Homo sapiens: one gene and its partner. The protein of the gene in region 2 purifies or fractionates together with the protein of the main gene of each other region. This does not show direct contact. Each region holds a gene or a part of one and is shown on either strand. Other genes may lie near its edges.

Region 1 (2,585 bases), on a different chromosome or scaffold from region 2:
GTGGATTATCTCTTTTAATCCTTAGTAACTCTATAACAAAGATACTATCATTATCCCCTTCTCATATATGCTTAACAGTTTTAGCTTTGTAGCTTCTTTAGTTTTTTTCCTCCTTCAAAGCCATAAACAGGCAATTGTTAAAAGAGGAAAATACTTCTCTATGTAAAGCTTTTTTTTGAGAACAAGAGCTTTTAAAAATTAATAAACACAAGTATAATTTATTTATAAAATGTGTTTGTGGAAACAATACTGAAGTGCTATTAAAACACGTATCATTATAGATGCTGATTTTGTCATGCCCAAATCTCATTGCTGGACAGAATTTCAACTATTCCATTGCTGTCAGGCATTGTTTTTGTTTTTCTAAGCAGGAATCTAAAATTCCACATTGAAAGAAAAAAAAATAACCCTCTCAAGTGTGATATACATTAGGACAAATGGCAACAGGCAGGAAGGGCAGGTTGTGTTGGAGGGTGGCCAGAAGAGAATAAGGTTCGAACACTATCGACAGGTAAAAACACATCCTCAACGGGGCTAAGTGAAATCTCGTTTTCTTTCTTTGTTCTGACTGAATGCTAAGTGAGTTACTTTCCAGGCATCAATGGAGTCATTACGCAGTTGTGTGCATTAAGAATATGGGCTTATGTTGTTAGCCTGTTGGTTTAAAGCAGTGCAGCAGAAAGACTGGAGTCATTATAGGTTTGGTTTGTCAAAGGCACAGATAGTGTAGTTACATGCATGAGGTACTCAAGGAACCAGTTCAAGTTCTGGGGCACAATCTAGATGAAACTGTGAGGTTTGTTCAAAAAGTAAGTGTACAAAATTTCATCATGAACTGGCTTTATTACAACTCTTTACCGTGGTTTATTGAAACCACAATGTATACTACTTTCCTCCAGATTCTGATTCTAATGGGCACATTTGTTTGTTGAAATGATAAATATATTTTCCTTGTCAAACATGGTGGGTCCTGGTTGATATCTCCTGTTTCCTGCCTTGAAAAACATCCTTGTTGGTGCCTTTCTCCCACTTTGGTACATCACTCCCAACTGAAAACAGTCTAGATATAAACTTTAACAAGCTGGAGATCTATTTCTACAGCACAACTCTTTCATGTTTAAAAGCAATTATGCCGTATCAGGTGATTGCCACATGTTGGGGAAAGCAGCCATCTTAGAGCAAAAGTCTGCCAACCCACAGTCCCTGTTGATCCACATGTGGGCATTGTCTAATGTTAACAAAATCAGCACTTGTAGACTTACTTTCTCTGAACAATCTAGTACACTTCTCTAGTTTCTCCCAACCTGGAGAAAATGTATAGCAAAAGCCAGAGGCAAAATTATTCTCCTTAGCAGTTCTAAGTATTTCATGAAAAAGCCTTCCCCCAGTTTAAATGCAGAGGCTAAGGTGATGACTAACGAATTAAGGAAAACTTTGGCTCAGATCAGCAAAATTATTTTGGAAACTTAATGTCCCAAGTTAATTATTTTTTTTATATCAAGGGGAAGACATCCAGTTCTGTAGGATGCTAATAGAAGTGTGATATTTAGATGCTATTAGGACATTGTATACATTTCTTTAATGTGGTTATTTTAAGTTTAGGACTGTAAATGTTCCCTACTGGAATAGAAATATGTCTCTCTCCAACTTTCCACCAAATAAAATGGTTAGAGTGAATGCCCAGTTTCACATCTGCCTTTTGGAGTTTGGAAAGCTTAAACAAGTCAGTTAAGAGAATGAGAAGAATCTCACTGTGGGTGATAAGGAGTGTGTAGTTTGCTGTAAGGGCCACTGATATGACAAGAATGATTATCCCACAGTAAGAATGGGTAAAACTTAATAAAGTTTTCTAACTTTATTAAACTCACATTATTTAATGAAAAAATAACTGCAAAGGACCAATGAGATCATGCATGCTGCTGTATTCTTGTGATGGAATCTACCAGGATTAAGTTGTATTTAAATGAAAAAACAGGTACACATTTAGAGATCATTGACCAAGAAATGTAAATATATTTGATTAATAAAACGTTTTTATGATGACTCGATCTTCCCTTGGATTCTGTCTTTTCCAGTCCCACAGTCATTTTTCAAGCACCATCTGATTCTAGTGTGCAGCTTAGGTAGTAGGCAGTCAACAAACTCTTGTTGGGGAAGTATAAGCTAGAAAATACACCTAGCAAGCAGGAAGGTTGTTAAAATTCAGCCCTGAGGTTTATTCGGATGCATTTGAGATTACTGTTTTCCTTATTCATGTGCTCACATGCTCATTTGCCCAACCAAGTCAGGTGCACAGCTTCTTAAGGAAACTGTGCGCAGAGACCCAGCCACAAATCTGTGGCAGGCTGGACTTGATATTTGACCTCTAACCCCATAAGCTTTGGAGCACAGCAGAAAGCACTTGCCCGGAGAGTGGCCTGGGGCTATGACTCTTCTGAATGTATGTGATTGGGGGCTCTCAGAAAGAAAGCCAAAGTCAGCTGTTTGTCTCTTGTTCTGTTGGAAAATAAAATTTCACTTAGAAAAAATATGTGAGCATGTAGGAATAGCAAGAAGGACACTGATGCTGGAGTGGATTGAAAGAG
Region 2 (3,822 bases):
TCGTACCAGCAGCGCATGCTGAGCTGGCCGCACATGCAGTTGCTGGAGGAGCAGTCGTCGATGCACACGCAGTACTGAGAAGAGAGGCGCCGGGGGGTCAGACGTGCAGGCACAGGCCTTCCATTTCCCCTCCCAGTCACAACTACGTCTTCCAGTTCTGTTAACCCTGATTCTGGTAAGTGCTTCTCAAAGGCACCACGTGAGTGTGTGGCCTCTTAGGGAGAAGGCTGTGCAGGCAGAAACATGTCGAGTGCCTGTGGGAGGGAGCTCTGGCTGAGGACCCTGACAGAGGGACAGGGGGCAGGCAGGGCAGCGACGCGGCAGTGGGTGACGTGGGGTGGGTGAAGGGCTGGGCGGCGGCTGCATTTGTGGCCAGATGCTCGATGGGAAAGGCAAGAACACAGAGCCTGACACACCTTGTGGGGCGGGGGGCGGGGGGGGGGGGGGGCCTGGGCAGTGCCCGGCCTGGGAAGAGGAGGGAGCTGCCCACAAGCAGAGCCACAAGGAAAGTGCTCGAGAAGGCGCAAGCAGTGAGGGCACCAGGCTGCATGCACTCGGAGGCTGGGAAAGCTGGCATGTGCTGGACCCATCTCTCCGGGGGCTGGGAGGTGCAGGGATCCAGGTCGTCCTGCAGGCCTCGCAAGGGCTCCTCTCGCCTGTGCCCCCAGCACGAAGCCACACCGGGGCCCCTGAGTGTGAGGTTACAAAAAAGGCACAAAGATGCCTGCCACTGCTTTGGGTCGGTAAGAAGCCTTGGAAGAGCAATGAGAGGGCCCAGGGCTGGGCCTGACAGAACCTTTATCTGCCTTCCAGCTCTTTCACGGGAGGCAACTACAAAGAGAATGAGGTCTTCCTGGGAAGCCCCCCATAAGCCCTCCTGCTCTGAGTGGTGAGAACCCAGGACCCCAGGCTCAAGAAGCTTCTGCCTGTCCCATGTCCTGGCCTGAGTCAGCCCTTCATCTGCCGTCACTCACCTGCAGATGAGTGATATTTCTGTCGATGTTCATGGGGGACGTCACGCAGTTCTGAGAGACGTACTTGTAGTTGCTGGGGCATGGCTCGCTGTCCACGGCGTTGACACAGGGGATGGGGATGCGCTCGTAGCCTCGAGCGATGTCCCTGCCATGGAAAGGACAGGTGTCACCTGGTGGCTGACGTGCTCTGCCCAGGGGGTGGCACAGCGTGCAGTGGGGCGGCTGGCAAACACCTGGCCCTGACAATTTGGACTGCAGCCTGGGGATGTTTCGGCTTCAGGAGCAGCTTTCACCGCAAGTTCCCAAAGCCCTGCTGACCGCTGATTTGCCACAAAGCCGTCCTGGGGCTGGGCTCACCTGCTCACTATCCTCTCCACGGGGCTGGGCCTGTCGGGGGCCGAGTCCTGCAGAGCCTTGCTCATCTGCAGAGCGCTCCACACCTGAGAGTTGAGGCTCGCACACTGCAGGGGCGTCTCTCCTTCCTTGTTCTTTAAGGTGACATCTGAATCCCGAGAAAGAAAGAGGCTAAAAGGGAAAATGTAAGGCCACAAAACATTTAAAGCTGACTTGAAAATGTGATACAGATGAGATTTATAAAATGTCCGTCATCACTAACAATAAAGGGAACACTATTCACTGTGAGATAACTTGAACAAGTCTGCTCAGCAATGACTCTGCAAAGACGGGCTTTAGCTCACCCAGGAACATGATTCCCTTCCTCCTCTCCCACATTCACTGTCAAAGTCAGCAGGCTGTTTTCTTAGCAGGAAGAGTGTAAAATCCAGGGCGGCATTTGATTTTTCTTGGATTTTTCATTCAAATTTACCCTCAAGGATAAGAAGGGAAGCAAGGAGGGAGAGAGGCCAAGCTTGGGCCACGCACAGCGTGAGCAGTCCTCAGTTCCACTCCTGCTCACTGCATCCAGACTGCAGTCATCGTACGTGGAGCTGGGCTTCACACAACCAGATGACCAACCTGGCTGAGCCACCGTGAGATCCACATGTGGGAGGGCACAGCCCCATGTGTAGGGGCCAGGGAGTCACTGGAGGCTGGTGCCTGGAGCACCCACAGTTCCCTGTCCTTCCCCAGCAGCCAAACACACACTCCATCCCAGGCCACCAACAACAACCTGAGTGTGGATGACTTTATGGGATCAAGGTCTCAAGCTTTTTTTGTTTTTTGGGTTTTTTTTGAGACAGAATCTCACTCTGTCGCCCAGGTTGGAGTGTAGCGTCGCAATCTCCACTCACTGCAATCTCTTGCCTCCTGGGTTCAAGCGATTCGCCTGCCTCAGCCTCTGGAGTAGCTGGGGTTACAGGCACATGCCACCATGGCCGGCTAATTTTTGTATTTTAGTAGAGATGGGGTTTCACCATGTTGGCCAGGCTAGTCTCAAACTCCTGACCTCAGGTGATCTGCCTGCCTCAGCCTCCCAAAGTGCTGGGATTACAGGCGTGAGCCACCACCACCCAGCTGAAGGTCTCAAGTTTTAAAAGGGCCCTGAGTGGCGAGTGCCACAGCCCCCAGCAACTCCAGCCCTGGCTGTGGGTGGCACTGCTCCCAGAAGGCACCCTGAGCCTCTCGGGGACTCTGAGCTGGCAGGTCCCTGCTGGGAGCAGGGCTGTTCCCATGCTGCCCCTCAGCCATGTGAGGAGTATCAGGTCTGAGACTCCAACTTGGGAATTTTTTCATGACAATCCTCCCTAACCCAGAAATAAACCACAGCTGATCTCAAACGTGGACTGGGAAAGACACTTCTCTGCGTGTGGAACACCAAGGATGGACTTCCACACGAAGGAACAGAGGGCCTGTGTCCACTCACGCCCCAAGTGTGAACACAAGACTGTCAAGCGGTCTCTCTGGGCGCCCAGGTCAGGTCAGCGCCAGCCCGCGCTGGGGGAAGCACTGCACTCACACGACACAGTCGTAGCGGTTCTCCCGGGCGGCAATGTGCAGTGGCGAGTCTCCGTGGATGTTCACGGCGTGGAGGTCGCACTTGGCAGCCAGCAGGATCTCGGCTATGTCCACGCAGCCGGAGAACGCCGCCCAGTGCAGGCAAATGTTCTCCTCCTGAACAGACACAAGCCAGAGCTCAGTGCAGGCTTCCTGCTGGCTCACAGTGCTGGGGCTGGGCCACAGCAGCTGCAGCCCATGTGCCCGGGGAGAGGCTCTGGAGCATGCGTGGCCGTCCGCAGCAGGGCCAGGTGGAAAGGGTGCCACAGGTCACCGGATGGGAACCTAGCGCCCATCTCAACTCTGGAAGGCACTTCGTTTCATGTTTTGTTTGTTTCATTGTAAAAATAACATAATTATAAAAGTAGCATAATCACAGTAAAGAATAAAAATAGGGAAAAGGTCATCCAGAATTATATCAACCTACACTCAACATATTAACACTTGGAGGCACTTTTCTTTCATGTATTTTTAAAAATTATATTCATTTCCAAGCAGGGGTATAGTCATAGGATAGGATAATGCTTTTGAAAGATTTGAAAAAAGGACGTGCAAATTTGATTAAATTAAAATTTTGGGCCGGGCATGGTGGCTCACGCCTGTAATCCCAGCATTTTGGGAGGCAAAGGCAGGTAGATCACCTGAGGTCAGGAGTTCGAGACCAGCCTGGCCAACATGGTGAAACCCCGTTTCTACTAAAAATACAAAAAATGAGCCGGGCGTGGTGGTGGGCACCTGTAATCCCAGCTACTTGCGAGGCTGAGGCAGGAGAATTGCTTGAACCCGGGAGGCAGAGGGTTACAGTGAGCCGAGAACGTGCCACTGCACTCCAGCCTAGGCAACAAGAGCGAAACTCTGTCTCAAAAAAAAAAACAAAAAATTTTACTTTAAAAAA

Evidence for each region.
Region 1: the proteins of EHMT1 (region 2) and PRDM6 purify together in Homo sapiens (affinity purification with western blotting, with the first as the bait; one study listed by BioGRID). This does not show direct contact.

What each region holds. Positions count from the first base shown.
Region 1 is NC_000005.10:123,192,219-123,194,803, forward strand, and holds the end of PRDM6 (putative histone-lysine N-methyltransferase PRDM6), read left to right. Parts: 3' UTR 1-2,048; downstream 2,049-2,585. UniProt on the Homo sapiens protein: Putative histone methyltransferase that acts as a transcriptional repressor of smooth muscle gene expression.
Region 2 is NC_000009.12:137,810,683-137,814,504, reverse strand, and holds part of EHMT1 (histone-lysine N-methyltransferase EHMT1), read right to left. Parts: intron 3,045-3,822; coding exon 2,890-3,044; intron 1,500-2,889; coding exon 1,332-1,499; intron 1,120-1,331; coding exon 975-1,119; intron 75-974; coding exon 1-74. UniProt on the Homo sapiens protein: Histone methyltransferase that specifically mono- and dimethylates 'Lys-9' of histone H3 (H3K9me1 and H3K9me2, respectively) in euchromatin.